Regions from separate parts of the Homo sapiens genome. Here region 2 is linked to region 1. A link means that fine-mapping ties the variant in region 1 to the expression of a gene that starts in the linked region. Tissue or cell type: whole blood. Region 1 holds a variant in brackets; the other region holds the start of a gene. All regions are shown on one strand. Distances are between the middles of the regions.

Region 1 (8,466 bases):
GGAGGCACTAATTTATCCCTTCTGCTTTTCAAGTGAGGAAGCTGCAGCTTGGCGTAGTTCTGGGGGGAGTATGAAGCTGCCTTGGTTTAGGTGATGGAGCACAGGTCCACAGACATGTGTGGGTGCATCTGTGGCAGGGGAGAAAAGAGCATGTGTCCAGACTACAGCTTGTTCAGAGCTGGGACACTGACAATAGAGCACGCACTGCGTGCGTAGGTGGGTGTGTCTCCGATCCTCCAGCAGTGACAGGGACGAAGCCTTGCCCTGTGGGATGACTCAGGCCACTGGCCAAATGTTATGTCTCCATGTTCAAGTCCCTCTCCAACTTCTCCTCCTGGGACAGAAACAGATGGCAGCGGAGCAGGAGAAGGTGGGGGCAGAGTTCCAGGCACTGAGGGCTTTCCTGGTGGAGCAGGAGGGTCGGCTGCTAGGCCGCCTGGAGGAACTGTCCCGGGAGGTGGCACAGAAGCAGAATGAGAACCTGGCCCAGCTCGGGGTTGAGATCACCCAGCTGTCCAAGCTCAGCAGCCAGATCCAGGAGACAGCTCAAAAGCCTGACCTTGACTTTCTCCAGGTAAGTCTGGCTCAGCCAGGGGCTCGAGTCATTTATCCTAAGGCATCAGGACCAGCAGCTAGAGAACAGTGTCAGTCCTGGGGGGTCTAGGAGAATCACATGATCTGGAGCTGAAGGGGACTGGAGAGAAGTGCCCTGATTTTCCTGGGGTTGGAGGTCTAGAGAGATGTGAAAACTTTCTTGACTATGAGCCACAATAATATATATCGTATTTCAGAATCACAAGCTTGAGACAAAAGTCTCAGAAAATAATACTCACCTTTGCTACACGTATGCACTTTGATGTTTTCTATTCTATTTCGCTAAAAAAAAAGTTATAAACAACTAGATAAACTTCACAATCCATAGATGGGTTAAGAACAGTCATTATGGGGCTGAGTGAGCAGTAGGTGCATAAGGGCTGTGACCTCCCTCAGGTGGTTTCCAGGACACACGCAGCACTGGGTCCCATGGGATAGCTCCAGTGATGATTCTGTAACTAAGAAAGCAGCAAAGATAGAAAGAAAGCACGTGAAGAGTTGTGGCAAAGGGTGAGAGGTCCACTGCGTGGGTGAGACACCCTGCAGCCAGCAGCCACTGGAAGCTGCTGCCCCTGAGGCCCACGCAGGCAGTGAGGCGTGGCACACTTGCTTATGCTTACATCTGGGAGGCACAGCAAGGGGCAAGCTTTGTTTCTCAGAGGTGAATGGAGGTTACCTGATGCTGATTTGGTTTCCTCTATCTTTCCTTCCAGGAATTCAAAAGCACGCTGAGCAGGTGAGTGACCTCACAGCTCCTGGGGCCTCTCTAAGTTGCTTCTTCCCTTTTCACTGAGCCTTGTCTTTATTCCCTGTCCCCTGACCTCTCACCTCCTGATCCCCCGACTTGCTTGCCTGGGGACCTTCCGAGACAAACGCCCACCTGCCTGGCCATGGGTTTTTCTGCATGAGGTCTGGCTCTCCCTTTTCTACCTCTTTCTGCCAAGAGGACCTCGCCATCCTAATTGTCACAGCCTGTGGGAGCAAAATGGTGCACACAGGCCCTTCTCAGAGCCCTTGTCCTGCAGGTGTAGCAATGTGCCTGGCCCCAAGCCAACCACAGTCTCTTCTGAGATGAAGAATAAAGTCTGGAATGTTTCTCTCAAGACCTTTGTCTTAAAAGGGATGCTGAAGAAGTTCAAAGGTAGGGGCCTGGGCGCCAAGCTGGGCCACATAGTGCGGTGGTGGTGGAGGGTTCCTGGTAGCTCAGGGGTCCCTGGGTGTGCTTTCCAGAAGCTGTGTGTGAAAATAGGAGCTGGCTGTGCCATGGCCAGATTGGTGTAGGGGCTGTGGTGGCAAATCTAGTCAGGCCCCCGCAGGGCATGCCGCTTCTCATGGGCACAGATGGGGTAGAGGGGTACTGCTGGGGGACTGGGGTTAGGAAGAGAGCTGTGCAGGGGAGCTCAGCTCAGAGCCACTTGGGTAGAGCTAGAATGCTTGGGTATGGGCCCCCTGCCCCCCGCTCCCCATGCTTGGCCCTGTGCCTGCACGTTCACTCTTGGCCTTAGGAGTCTCTGGGGAATGAATGAGTCAGTTGGGATATAAAGAGCTGGTGACCTTGCCATATAATCTCCCGTGTCGCTCATGCACGCCTTGCTTTGTTTCTCCTCCTCAGAGGACCTTCGGGGAGAGCTGGAGAAAGAGGAGAAAGGTAGGGATGGTGCTGTGATGGCGAGTATGGACTGTCTGCCACACAGAGATCCTACTCCCTGCTCGTGACCATCTCAGGGTTTTGCATATGGTCGGTTCCTTCAGCCCACCCACCTCAGCAACCCTGTTCCTCTGTCCCCTCCCCCACACCACCCCCTCCCCATCCTGGGAGCTCTGACACCCTCAGATGTTGGCCCAAATGCTGCAGGTTGGTTAGGAGCAGGAATGCCCTGTACCTCGAGATACTCAGACTGGGAAAGGCTTCTCGGCCACCTGGGTGAGCCTCTACCCGGTCCCCACTCCAAGATGGATGGAAACCTCTCCTGGGAATGGGGTGTATACAGGGGACCAGGAAAGCAAGGGGAAGCTAAAGACTGGAAGGAATATCGTTTTTACTCTTGCAAAGCTCTGGAATGTGTGGCATCCAACACCCAGAGGAGGGGAGGGGAGGGCACATATTCCTGATGCTGATGTCTGAGCTAAGTCAGAGTGTGTCTGGGTGCCACCTAAAACACCTGAGTGAGACCAGGCCCTCCTCTGCTCAGAGCCCTGCCACAGCCCCTCTGACTTGGTAAAGGTCAGAGTCCCCATGGAGGTCTCAAGGGCCCACGGGCTCTAGCCTCACTGCACACCCCTTCTACTCCACGCAGCTACACATCCTCCCTGCTGTTCCTTCAGTGTACCAAGCACACACCCATCCCGGGGCCTTTGCACTGCCAGGCTCCCCCACCCCAGGCCCCTACCTGGAGCATGCTTTCCCCAGCCAGTCCTGTGGCCTGCTTCTTTGCCTTCTTTATATCTGTCTGCTCGATGCCCCTTTTCAGTGAGGGTCTTCCCTGGCCACTCTGGTTGAAGTTACAGCCTGCTCTTCTGGTCCCTCTCATCTTCTGTTTATAATCTATCCTCAATCCTCTCCCTGTGGGAAGGAAGCTGCAGGCAGGCAGGACTACTCTGATACTCTGTGGTACCCCCAGGGCCTCAATCGTAGTAGTGCTCACAGTAAGTGTACATATTTTAACTTTTTTTTTTTTTTTTGGAGACAAGGTATCGCTTTGTTGCCCAGGGTGGAGTGCAGTGGAACTGCAGCCTCCACCCCGCAAGCTCAAGCGATCCTCTCTCCTGGGCGTCCTCGAGTAGCTGGGACTACAGGAGCACACTACCATGCCTGGCTAAATTTTCTATGTTTTGTGGAGACGGATGTCTCGCTATATTGCCCAGGCTGGTCTCCAACACCTGGGCTCAAGCTGTCTTCCCACCTCTGCTTCCCAAAGTGCTAGGATTACAAGCATGAGCCTCTACACCTGGCCTTAACTTTTTATTATGAAAAATTTCAAACATACTCAAAAGTAGAGAGAAGAGTGTAAAGAATGTTACATACCCATCTCTCACCGTCCGCAGTGATCAATTAGTGGCCACAGTTTTCATAGACACTGCTATCCACTTCCTGTGGGATTATTTTGTTTTCTGAGACAGGGTCTTACTCTGGAGTGAGATCATGGAGTACAGTGGCCTGATCTCTGCTCACTGCAACCTCTGCCTCCTGGGTTCAAGCGATTCTCATGCCTCAGCCTCCCAAACAGCTGGAATTACAGGCACAGGACACCATGCCGGGCTAATTTTTGTATTTTTAGTAGAGAAAATACAAAACAAGTTTTCCGCCATGTTGCCCAAGCTGGTCCCAAACTTCTGACCTCATGTGACCCATTGGCCTTGGCCTCCCAAAGTGCTGGTATCGCAGCTGTGCACCATCTCACCCGGCCTCCACTGTATTATTGTTATTATTATTTTTATTTTTGAGACAGAGTCTTGCTCTGTCGCCCAGGCTGGAGTGCAGTGGCGTGATCTCAGCTCACTGCAATCTCCACCTCCCGGGTTCATGCCATTCTCCTGCCTCAGCCTCCCGAGTAGCTGGGACTACAGGCGCCCGCCACCACGCCCGGCTAATTTATTTTATTTTTTTATTTTTAGTAGAGACGGGGTTTCACCATGTTAGCCAGGATGTTCTTGATTTCCCGACCTCGTGATCCACACACCTTGGCCTCCCAAAGTGCTGGAATTACTGGCGTGAGCCACTGCGCCTGGCCTACTGTATTATTTTAAAGCATCAGAGACAACATATCATTGCCATAAATACCTCAGTGTGTTATCTCTAAAGAAACAGACTTTGTAAAACATAACCACAAAGCAGTCCTCACACCTGGACAGATTAATGATTCTTTCCAATGTCTAGCATTCAAATATCCCCATCTGTTGAATTGGGGTTCAAACCAGGCCCACACATTGCATTTGTTTGATTTCAGTAAGTACTTGTTGAGTGGTCGGGGCGGGGGGAAGCAAAATCTCTGGGAGGCAGAGCGTGGGGGTTGGTTGGGCCTTGGCGCTGGGTGCTGGGGGGATTCTAGAGGGAAAGGCAGGCAGGTTGCAAAGCAAGGTCGGGCGCGGCCCTGCAAAGACTGTGCCAGGGGCCTGGCTGCGTGGGGACATTTCTCCCTGTCTCTGTCTGCAGTGGAGCTCACCTTGGATCCCGACACGGCCAACCCGCGCCTCATCCTCTCTCTGGATCTTAAG[G/A]GCGTGCGCCTCGGCGAGCGGGCCCAGGACCTGCCCAACCACCCCTGCCGCTTCGACACCAACACCCGCGTCCTGGCGTCCTGCGGCTTCTCCTCGGGCCGGCATCACTGGGAGGTGGAGGTGGGCTCTAAGGACGGCTGGGCCTTTGGCGTGGCCCGCGAGAGCGTGCGCCGAAAGGGCCTGACGCCCTTCACTCCCGAGGAGGGCGTCTGGGCCCTGCAGCTCAACGGCGGCCAGTACTGGGCCGTGACCAGCCCCGAGCGGTCGCCCCTCAGCTGCGGGCACCTGTCGCGCGTGCGGGTGGCCCTGGACCTGGAGGTGGGAGCCGTGTCCTTCTACGCTGTGGAGGACATGCGCCACCTCTACACCTTCCGCGTCAACTTCCAGGAGCGCGTGTTCCCGCTTTTCTCTGTTTGCTCCACGGGCACCTACTTGCGAATCTGGCCTTGAGGGGCACTGCTGGGGAGCTCCTGTCTCTGGGCTGCCGGTGGGAGGGGATGTCGCCTCCCCAGAGATGCCTGGTCCGTCTTGGGTCTGCCCTCCGTGCTCCTGACCCCTGCTGCCCAAGAGAGCCTGCTACAGACACAACCCCGAGGCAGGAGAGTGACTGTGGCCAACCGAGCAGGGGAACAGGGGCTTTGGACTCCTGAGGGTGTTCCCTTCCTGAGGTCACATGTGGATTTGGCCAGAGCCTTCAGGAGGTGGAGGCCGGTGAGGTCAGGAGCCCAGCTCTCCAGGGGGCTTCTGCCCTGACTGGGAAGGGTGCCTGGCTCCCTAAAACAATGTCAAAGCCAGTCCTGCTGTTCTCTGTTGCCAGGGGGCAGGTCTGGGCCTGGGCCAACCACGTTTGTTATCATGGCTGCTGCCTTCTGGACAGCTGCCAGCTCTGCCTTGAGAGGTTGTGGGACCTCTGGATCCAGCTGACCTGACAGGTCATCTACTCAGGGAGGAGCCCTGTGCTCCCAGCTCAGAGGACAGTCTGGGCCAGAACTGGAAGGAGACATCTGTCCCGTCTTTGAGTGACAAGCCCGGGACAACAGCCAGTGGGCATCACGGCTCTCCAGCACTCCTTAGCCGGAGGATACAGAGTGATGGGTGCATCCTGACCAATGCGACAACCAACACGTGCTCTCACAAACCCCTGACTCCCGCACTTTCCAGTGCCAAAGTACAAACGCTGCTTGGATAAGGAGAGCAAAGCTTCTGGAACTTTATTTACTCTTTCTTTTTAATTTTCTTTTAAGAGACTGGGTCTTGCTATGTTGCCCAGGCTGGTCTTGAACTCCTGGCCTCAAGTGATCCTCCAGTTTCCATCTCCCTAAGAGCTGGGATTACAGGTGTGAGCCGCTGTACCCGAACTTTTTTTGTTTTTGCTTCTGGAACTTTGAAACACAAAACACAAGTTGGCACTTACAATTTTAAAGATGCAGCCAGCTCTAAACAACACACAGAGCACAAATATGCTCCTGACGGACTCAGGAAAATGCCAACAGCAGAGCACCCTGGTGCCAAGGCCTTCTCAGCCCATGCCCTGGAGGGCATTCCCCTGGCCAGCCTCAGCCCCTTGTCTACTTGTTCTCCAGCTTCTGGGTAGCTGGGCTTCTGGAAGGGTGGCAGTGGGCTACTCCCTGCTCAGCGCTCCCCTGGGAAGGGGGTGAGGAGATGAAAATGAAACTATGAGCTGTCTTTGGAGTTGGCTTGGCCCATTTTCTACTCCCTAGATCTGAGTGCAGGAGCGTAAGTGTGATCAGGGTTTCTGCCAGAGTGAATGAGCATGCATGTTTCTGTGTGGGAGGAGTGTGTATTTGTATCTCACCTTTCTTGGGGGTGTGTGTGTGTATTTTGGAGAGGGCATTTATGAGCATGTGCATAAGGTTCAGGTGTTGCAAACAGACCCAAGTCAGTCTGGTCATACCCTATTGTTGATTTGTTGTTAAATACTGACCACCTCATATTTAGACAAGGGCCACAGGTTTCTTCTCTCACTACCTGGCTACCAGGCTAGATGAACAGAATACCAGACTCGGACCTAATTCTGTCCCACACAAGTTATTTAGACAGAGGTGCTGGCAAACAGGGGCAATGATAGCTGAATAGCCCTGTGTCATGGAGCTTCAGTGCTCTGTCTCTGAGGTGCTTCAAGCTCACCTGGCATATAGGGTTCTCGTGGGGCAGCCACAACACTATCCCAGAGGCAGGCCCAGTTGACACAGCACCAGACAATCAGAATACCGCATCCTCCAGGCTGAGGACAGGGTCATTTCAAAGTCCTGCCTACAGAAGCATTCCAGAGAGTGAATCCTATGTCCTGCTCATACATGGAGAGCAGCTCTAAAACCGGGTAGCCAATTCAGGCATTTGAATACCACTGATTTCCACAAGGAAAACCGATCTCTAACATTAATTTCCTAACTGAATCACCTATTGTTACCGTTAAGCCTTAATGTTATCTGGCTTGTATGGCTTTTTGATTAAGTATCATAATTCCCTTTGTACCATCCAACAAATGTGCTGGGCATCACAACACACATTACAGGTCCCAGAAAGTACCATGTCTGGTGAAGGTGTCACATGAGGGTCAGGTCTGGGGACTGGGAGTAGCTGTCCGCATGTTTATTTTCCGTTTTTGTGTCCATGAGTGCAATCGTGTGTCTATCAGAGTGTGTGTGTTTGCAGAGTGACTACATATATAGCTATGTATCTTAAGAAATGTAACAACAGTTACTGTAACAATTGCATAGAGAAGGGAACAGATGTTCTTTCTTGCTAACCAGGGCAGTACAGTAACTTGGATGTCAGGATGCTGGTGTCCTCGAGGGCATGTGTGTGCATTTCCCTCTCCTAGACTCTGGGCATCATAAACTCTAGGGACCTCTGGGTCTGTGAGAACAACTGGCCTAACTTGGGCCCTTCTTATTCAACCCATCAGTCCTAGCTGCTGACCCATAAGCGCAGGCCTCTGCCGCCAGACCCTCACAGGGACCCTCAGCATCCAGAATGGGGGGCACCTAGAGGCCCACCTCTGGCCTGGCCGCCCAGTGACCCAAGTCACCCGGCATTGCAGGGAGCACAGGGCAGGCTAGGCCACCAGACCAAGGTCCACCTCCTACACCCACCACTTTCTGTCCTTTGCCAGGCTGAGCCCTCATCCTTTTCCCCTCTCCTCCGGCCCGTGGGCCCTTTAAGGGCCCTGACAGAACATGTCAGGGTGTACCCTAAAAGCTGCCTTTTCCTACTTCATCCAAATGTGAGACGGGGCTGGCACCCACCCGCAACCTCGCCTGGACCCTTCCCACCCCAGCGCCTCCAAACACCTGGCCCTCCTGATTCCCCGCCTCCCCCGCCACACTCCCGCTGGGCCTCCACCTCCTGATGACCCCACTGTTCCCCCACCGCCCAGCTCGCCCCAGGTCCCGCCCTAACCTCTCGGATCTGGACTCCCTGCAGGACGGGCGCACTGACACCCTTCCCTGACCTTTCCATAGCCTTGACCTGGATCCCCGCTTCCTCACGCACAGCAAGACGCAAAACGTGCTCCCCAATCCTGCGCACGCCCTTCCCTGGCCCCCGCCCCGCCCAAGGCCCGGGGCGGTCCTCACAGCTCGGAGCTCGGCGGTGCCGCCCCGCCCCGACAGCTCCCGCCCGCGCGCGCGCCCA
Region 2 (8,163 bases), 28 kb before region 1:
AGCTGGGACTACAGGCACCCGCCACCATGCCCGGCCAACTTTCAAAACATTTAACTGTCGGGCAGACACAGTAATCCCAGCACTTTGAGGGGCCAAAATGGGAAGATTGCTTGAGGCCAGTGGTTCAAGACCAGCCTGAGCAACACAGCAAGACCCTGTCTCCACGAAAAAAAAAAAAAAAAAATTAGCTGGGCATGATGGCACACACCTCCAGTCCCAGCTACTACTCAGGATCACCTGAACCCAGAAGGTCAAGGCTGCAGTGAGCTATGATCATGCTACTGCATTCTAGCCTGGCCAGAGTGAGACCCTGTCTCAAAAAAAACAAAACAAACATGTAACTGTTCAGGAACTATATTTACATATCATTTGTGTGTTATTACCTATTCAACAAAAAAAATTTTTACAAAACATTTTGCCAAGCTACTGGTTACTGCATGTACATATCTGAAAAGAATAAATGACCCACTTGTGGCTGGGCGCGGTGCTCACGCCTGTAATCCCAGCACTTTGGGAGGCCGAGACGGGCAAATCAGAAGGTCAGGAGATCGATACCATCCTGGCTAACATGGTGAAATCCTGTCTCTACTAAAAATACAAAAAAATTAGCCAGGCGTGGTGGCAGTCGCCTGTAGTCCCAGCTACCTGGGAGGCTGAGGCAGGAGAATGGCGTGAACCTGGGATGCGGAGCTTGCAGTGAGCCGAGAACACGCCACTGGACTCCAGCCTGGGCGACAGAGCGAGACTCCATCTCAAAAAAAATAAAAATAAAAAAATAAATGACCCACTTGTAAAATAGCCTATTAAGTCAGAAAGGGAATCACTCAAATTAGTCCTATACAATAAAACTATGTATTTACATTTACTCATCACTTAATGTCAGATTAAATATGTGTATATGGCCTCCCAAACTGCAGAGCGCAGTAAACAGATCAAGAAAAGAGAGTATGGCCAGGCGCAGTGGTTCACGCCTGCAATCCTAGCACTTTGGGAGGCCAAGTTGGGCGGATCACCTGAGGTCAGGCGTTCGAGATCAGTCTGACCAACATGGAGAAATCCCGTCTCTACTAAAAATACAAAAAATTAGCCAGGTGTGGTGGCACATGCCTGTAATCCCAGCTACTCGGGAGGCTGAGGCAGGAGAATCGCTTGAATCCGAGGCAGAGGTTGCGGTGAGCCAAGATTGTGCCATTGCACTCCAGCCTGGGCAACAAGAGTGAAATTCTGTCTCAAAAAAAAAAAAAGGGGGGAAAAGAAAAGAGATTATGACTTTTTTTAATTCCTCACCTACTTCAGGACCTAATACGGGATTTCAGGCAGCTGGCATTGAACAAATTTGGCTAATGCAAATTAAAATCCAGTTTCAGAAGCTCCTTGGAGCAGTCCTACAGGGGGAGGTGAAAGAGAAAGGGTGGAATGCCCATGGATAGTTTGGCCTGGGTTCCTGTTCACAAAGTGACCACACATGATATGATGGGTATGGTTAACTAGGAACTGAGGAGATGGAAAGGACAACAGGACCTCACAATCTCTGCTAAAAATGCAGGGACTAACAGCTAGGCAATGTTACCAATGCAGTGATCCCCATGCTAGACTGGGCTTTTTAAAGATATTCTCCTACTCACTGATTCAGAAACTCTAGTGGTAGGATCCACTGTATTTTTGAAAACCTCCCCTAGTAATTCCAACAATCAGGCAGGTTTAACAATCTTTGTGTAGCCAGGCACAGTGGCTCATGTCTGTAATCCCAGCACTTTGGGAGGCCAAAACAGGCGGATCACCTGAGGTCAGGAATTTCAGAACAGCCTGGCCAACACGGTGAAACCCCATCTCTACTAAAAATACAAAAATCAGCCAGCTGTGGTGGCGAGTGCCTGTAATCCCAGATACTCAGGAGGCTGAAGCAGGAGAATCACTTGAACCCGGGAGGTGAAGGCTGCAGTGAGCCGAGATCATGCTACTGCACTTCAGCCTGGGCAATAGAGTGAGACTCCGTCTCAAAAAATTAAAAAAAAAAAAGGCCACTCTGTAAAAGAAATTGTTACTTGTGATGAGGTAATGTAGGTATGTCTAGCTGTACCACTCAGAGCTGAGAAACCCTAGACACATTACTCTAAAATTGGGGTAACGAAAATAATACCTAAATGAAGTTATAGCAGGAATCAGGAGAAGGTCTGAAAACATGAGTTATAAAACAAAAAAAGCTCTGTGCAGACCACACAGAGGCTACCCCCTCCTCCTCCTGGTCCCACTGCTTCAAACCCATCCAGGCCTTCACTAAGTAGTGCTATTTGTGCTGGCTGCCTTGCAAACAAATCTCCTTTACCTATGTCCAAAGAAGAGTCAAAATGAGAAGTAGGGGCAAGGTATTTGTCAAACTAGAATCAGACTCCAAGAAAGTCACATCAGAAAAGTCAAACAACAGACATCCAAATGGTGGTGGCGTTGTTAGTATACACCAGGGGAAGGGACAGTAAATAACTAAGTCAATTATTACTGAAGCTCTGTGGCCCTCTGTATGGTACTTAAAGCCTCTCTGACTTTGTTTCCCAATCTATAAAATGGGAATGGAAAACATATCAAACTCAGTGTTGTCTGGGTTTTAACGAGACAGTCCATGAAAAGTGCCTAGTACAGTGCCTGGTATACATATAAATGTCCAGTGAATATTAACTATCAATCCTGGACAAATTAAAGTCCAAAGACACTCACAGACTTAATCAAGATTTGACAATGCAACTTGCAGAGCCAGGTCTTCTGACTGAAAAGCTCCTGCTTTCTAGTCAGTGCATAAGAATGACACAGAGCCAACCAAAGTCCTTGAAGACAGAACCAAGCCATATCGTGGTAGGTGGGGAACCCACTGGGAGGCAAGTGCAGAGCATTTGGGTCTGACACTGACACTAGCAGTTATCTCTGTGTTCCTGCTTCTGAGCCTTTTCTTGTCCTTTGAAGCCCCCAGTTCTTTCCATCTCTAGGTGTCTCCGTCAAGGACAGACTTAAGACTCACCCGAAAGAAAACGAGACTTCTGGTAAAGCCCTAGAGACCTGATCTGGCATCACCGGCTTTGCTCTATTTGCTTTGAGGAAGCCATCCTTCCCTGGTCGTCTTCACTGCATCTGCTCTGTGTACAGAATCCTTCTCATTCTAATCCACCTTGGTGGCAGTAAGTGCTTAGATAAGCAAACTTGGCTCACCAATACCATGAGGTTCTTTGGTGGGTGAAGAGATGTTTCCTTTTCCCAGGTCCCCTTACTTCCTCTCCATCCCCCCACTAAACTCCCATCTTCTCTCTGTACTTCTCTCACCTTGTACTCCTGCACCACCTCCTCCAATGGCACCACGCTGTGCTGTTTGTGGCTCCTGGATTCTCGGCACACCACACAGATGGCCTCTTCGTCTACCTCGCAGAAGAGCTTCAGGGCTTCTTGGTGTTTGGGACAGATGCCCTGATCGGTCACGCGGCTCCCTCGACCAGGGGTTGGGTGCATCTGCCGAATCACCTGGACCATATTGGCCAGCTGCAGGTTGGGGCGGAAGCTCCGCCGAGGAAAGCTCTTTCGGCACTGAGGGCATGTGAAGCACCTCCGAGGGGCTGGAGGCGGGGGCAGTGGGGTGACGGGGTCTAGATCCTCTTCCTCAACCTCCTCCAGCACTTCCTCCTCGTCCTCCTCATCCTCCCCCCTCAGGTCCTCCTCCTCCATGTCCCCCAAGTAGTAGTCCAGGTCTTCCTCCTCGTCCTCCTCCTCCCACACATAGTCCATGTTGTCCCAGCTGGACCTGCTCATGCCACTGGTCCAGAACACACCCTCTTCTTCCTCCTCGACCTCCTCCTCCATGTCACCCTCGTAGTCTTCATCCCGCATGGGGGTGTCCCACCCCGCGCCAGCCCCCACAGCCTCCACTTCCTCCTCCTCTCCGTCCTCCTCCTCCTCCTCCCGATCTAACTCATCTCTGTCCTCCTCATCCTCCCCACCCCACAACTGGGTTACACAAACTCGGCAGAAGTTGTGCCCGCAGCCGATGGACACGGGGTCCGTGAAGTAATCGAGGCAGATGGCGCACACCGCCTCCTCCTGAAGGGTCTGCACAGGGTTGGGTGTCATGGCAACGGCAGCCATCTTAGTGTCCAGCCAGCCAGTGTAGAGGTTCGGTGGGGGGGCGAGGGGCGGGGGTCTTCCCTACCGACGCCCTGGCGACCCGGCTCCACCCCCAGCCCTGCCCCTCCACACCTCGCCCCAAGAGCAGCCAGAGAGATGTCCTGCCGACAACCCACCCCAACACAGTGTTCCCTACTCCCAAACGACAACCGTGTCTCTACGAGGGGAGGGGACAGTGCTGGGCGCCACCGCCAAGTCCCTCAGGTGGCTCTGAGTACAAGTCTGCCCCAATGCTCCCTTGGACTCCTCATAAACCCCCGCCCCTCCTCACTTCCTGGCCCCGCCCCTAGCTTCCGGCCTCCTTCCCAACACTTCCGGCGTCTACACACCACCTAAGCTCGCGACTTCCCTCCGCTGTCCTGCTACTCCCCCTTTTTCCCCGCGGGGCCCCAGGGCGACAGGAAATGGCGAGGAGACGCTCTAGTCCGCACTAGAGAACAGGGCGGGAGGGCTAGGACGGTGGAGGCCCGCGTCTCTGTGGTAAGAGGCCGCGGGGAACGCAGAAAGAACAGAGGAACCGCCTACCCCCATCCCCCGCCGCTGGGGAGAAACTTCGGGGGGTAGGGGGAGCGCCTGGCGGCCGTCTGCTTTCGGTGCTATCACCGCATCGGCCAGACGCCATCCTACCCTCCCGGCACAGCCGACTGCAGCCGGTACTCCCCACAGCCGATGCCGGAAGCGAGGGGGTGGGTCCGCGGCGCGCCCTGAAGTACTTCCGGCCCTTCTAGGCAGACGACTTCGTTGTGGAGGACTCAGAGGGTCGTCCGGGTCGGACCGGGGGCGGGGCCTGAGAAAGCGCTTCGCGGGTTAGGGCAGCAGACGCCCCACCCTTCCCCAACTGTAGTCGGCGTTTCGCATCCGAGGTAGAAACTGCCAACCGGACACTGTCTCATGGTTTAGATGAACTTCCCTAACTGCCCAGCAGTGAAGAAGTGGTGACGAATCATTACATCTACATTCTCACAGCATCTCTGCAAAAATAGATGCTTTGTGCGGTAGAAATAATACTTGATGCTTAAATAGCTCTTTAAATTTTATTTTTATAGAGATTTGATGTCGATACATAAATAAATAAATGTTGTTTGATGCGAGAAAAATGACGGGGCCATGATTTATGTACAGAATCTCCAGTGAGTGCCAGACACAGCGTGACGCCAGGGCTGGGCCTGCAGAACTTACCCTGCTCTCAAGGCGGCTCGCGGGAAAACTCCAGATGGACGTCGCGCTTCCTAGGGGGGTGGTCAGGCCTCTGAGTATGTCAGATCAAACGCGCCAAAAACCACGAACCCTCGTGGGTGAACTATGCTAGGCCATTACAGGACCTGCGGACTCGGCTGCGGTGGACAAGTCCGGCTCCAGAACCTGGACACCGCTCAGCCGGCCGCGGCAGGGGTCCCCGGGCCTGTCCTACAAGGGCGCTTGCCTAGAGCTATCCCGGCCGTCTCAGCCGTGTGTGTCTTCAGGACGATGCCGGCAGGAAAGTAGCCAAGGTGGTTTCCGTAGTGTAGTGGTTATCACGTTCGCCTCACACGCGAAAGGTCCCCGGTTCGAAACCGGGCGGAAACACGTTTTGGTCTGTTCGGGAGATTCTCTCCCGAGGCCGGCCTTACGTGGCAGGAAGGACATGTGTGTCCCTGCGCTTCGGAGGAACACGGACTGGGGCAAAACTGAAGGAGAGCACTACTCAAGTAAATTCAGGTCTCGCCCCTCACCTAATCTCTTGCTCTTCCCTTCTGAAGCCTATGCAGCCATCACATGTACAGGAATCCGTAGATTTCAGATCCTCGGCTCTAGTGCCTAGAACAGAGCCAGGCGCAGGCGCTTCTTAGTATTTGCACAGTGGAAACGTGCTTACACCTCTGAGGGTAACCTCCATCTTCAGAGACAAAGTTAGAATACAGACATGGCCGCCCGGCTAGCTCAGTCGGTAGAGCATGAGACTCTTAATCTCAGGGTCGTGGGTTCGAGCCCCACGTTGGGCGTAATTTCGCTTTTTGGAAAGGTTAAGGCAAGTTGTGTTACCTAAGTGCACAAATGGTATTCTCTGTACCAAGACCTAGTGGGTAGCAGATTCACCAACAGTGGGTGTTAGAACTTGGACTAACCTGGTGTTCTCCGATCCGTGTGTGGAAGGCCCCGAGCAGAATTCTCACAACGTTTGCACCCTCGCTAACTCTCAAAGAAAGAATGAGAGGCGGGTACCTGTGGACCAATTCCTGCAGGCCAGCACCGCGGGCTATCGTGCATGCATGACCCTTTGCTGTAGGCCACTCGCCCACGGGCAGCACATATTAGGCATTTTATGTTTACCAGACGGCCTGCCCCCGTCTTGCTGTGAGACTTGCTGTGCTGGAGGGAACAATGTGGTTTATCGAAACTGGGGTGAGACCGCAGGACGACCCCAGGCGTTCGTGAGCGTCAAAACCTATCTGATTCACTCCCACTTTACTGGGAGATTTAGTGGTTAGGCTTCCGCCTTTGTCTCGCTACGACCTGCTTTCGACTCCCTGTCAAGAAAGATGCTTTGTGTCATATGAGACACTTGTCTTCCGTATATTCTTTTTTATGCTCTTGACTTTAAGAGTCTATTTTTGTGAGATGTTGCCCCACAAATACCAGCCTCCACGTTTCCCCCATACATAAATAGAGATAAAAACGGGCCATGCGCCGCGGTGGCTTATGCCTGTAATCCCAATACTTTGGGTAAGCCAAGGCGGGAGGATCGCTTGAGCCCAGGATGGCCTCGAAATTAGTCCTGCAAATATAGGCCTTTTTTCTTTTTTTCTTCTCTTTCTTTCTTTCTTTTTTTTTTTTTTTTTTTAAGATGGAGTCTTGCTCTGTTTCCAGGCTGAAGTGCAGTGGCACCACCTCGGCTCACTACGACCTCCGCCTCCCGGGTTCAAGTGATTCCCCTGCCTCAGCCTCCCGAATAGCTGAGACTACAGGCGCGCCACCACGCCCGGCTAATTTTTTGTATTTAGTAGAAACGGGGTTTCACCATGTTGGCAGGACGGTCTCGATCTCCTGACCTCGTGATCCTCCTGCCTCAGCCTCCCAAAGTGCTGGGATGACAGGCGTGAGCCACCGCGCCTGGCCCCGTTTTGTATTTTTAAGCTGTCGAAGTCTCCTCCGCATACGCACCACACCACGAGAGAAGTCTGTTGATCATAGAAAGCTGGCTTAATCTCGCTGAGCAAAAGATAGCATCGTCTTCTGTCTCAGACGTAAATCAAAGCGGGGACTTATGAGGGCTATATAGTCTGTGAGGGCGGTCTGGGCAGAAGTTGGTCAACGTTTGTAAATAGGCAGAGTCGCTAGTACAATCCTAGCACATGAGTTACTGGTGTTCAAAGCTGGTGTTCAAAGAGTTTTAAGTTTGACATTTCGTCTTGCACAAATTATTTCGGATTCTTTTGCAGACTGTGATTTCAGGGTTATTTTTTACCACCTTCACTGGGACTGGAAAACATTCTTAAAGGATTCTGGCTTTTTCATTAAAGTGGAGATGAAGTGGACAGGCTTCTCTTCTTTGTCCTCTAGCAAGCCAAGGGAACGCCCGCTGGAGCTTTTTGCTACAATTCCTGCTTTCTCTCCTCTCCACCCCTTCCACCCGTCGCCGCTCTGGCCAGGTCAGGTTTGGGATGCCCCTCCAGGCAAGTGACCCAAGCTGCTCCGGGCACAAAGGCGGCAAGCGTTCAACAGTCGGAGAAGCACGACACACACATGAACCTGGTGGGATCTTTGGCCTCCTCCCAAACCCTGTGGTGATGGGGCCTGGGGAGACTGAGGGACTCACTCTGATTTATATTTCAGGGGGTTCCTTCAGGAGTGATGCAAACAGGGAGTATGAGGGGGAGTAAGACTGTCGGAGACAGGGGCTGGAAGGACACAGGCCTGGTCCATACAGGAGGCGGCCGGCGCCGGGTGAGGCGGCAGCCAGAGGGAGACGCAGGTGAAGGAGCGGGATGCAAGGCTTGCAGCGGCGATAGATTTGGGTAGTTC

Evidence for each region. PIP is the estimated chance that this variant, and not a neighbour inherited with it, causes the effect.
Region 2: it holds the start of TRIM41, and the variant in region 1 is fine-mapped to the expression of TRIM41 in whole blood (INTERVAL, PIP above 0.99).

The regions. Positions count from the first base shown.
Region 1 is chr5:181,191,959-181,200,424 of GRCh38, reverse strand. It overlaps TRIM7 (tripartite motif containing 7), which reads left to right. Exons shown (of 7, transcript NM_203293.3): 3 at 344-574; 4 at 1,308-1,330; 5 at 1,620-1,735; 6 at 2,207-2,242; 7 at 4,748-6,501. The coding sequence ends at 5,259. It overlaps TRIM7-AS2 (TRIM7 antisense RNA 2), which reads right to left. Exons shown (of 2, transcript NR_183285.1): 1 at 8,285-8,466; 2 at 3,544-6,191. TRIM7-AS1 (TRIM7 antisense RNA 1) reads right to left here and starts at 350. Exons shown (of 2, transcript XR_001743050.3): 1 at 1-350. RefSeq lists a silencer at 8,189-8,466. The variant G/A (reference allele first, on the strand shown) is at 4,810.
Region 2 is chr5:181,219,959-181,228,121 of GRCh38, reverse strand. It overlaps TRIM41 (tripartite motif containing 41), which reads right to left and starts at 4,841. Exons shown (of 6, transcript NM_033549.5): 1 at 3,310-4,841. The coding sequence starts at 4,122. It overlaps TRK-CTT2-3 (tRNA-Lys (anticodon CTT) 2-3), which reads left to right and starts at 6,071; the gene lies at 6,071-6,143. It overlaps TRV-CAC1-5 (tRNA-Val (anticodon CAC) 1-5), which reads left to right and starts at 5,655; the gene lies at 5,655-5,727. MIR4638 (microRNA 4638) reads left to right here and starts at 5,489; the gene lies at 5,489-5,556. RefSeq lists enhancers at 2,948-3,945, 4,613-4,842 and silencers at 4,093-4,302, 5,573-5,802, 6,053-6,262.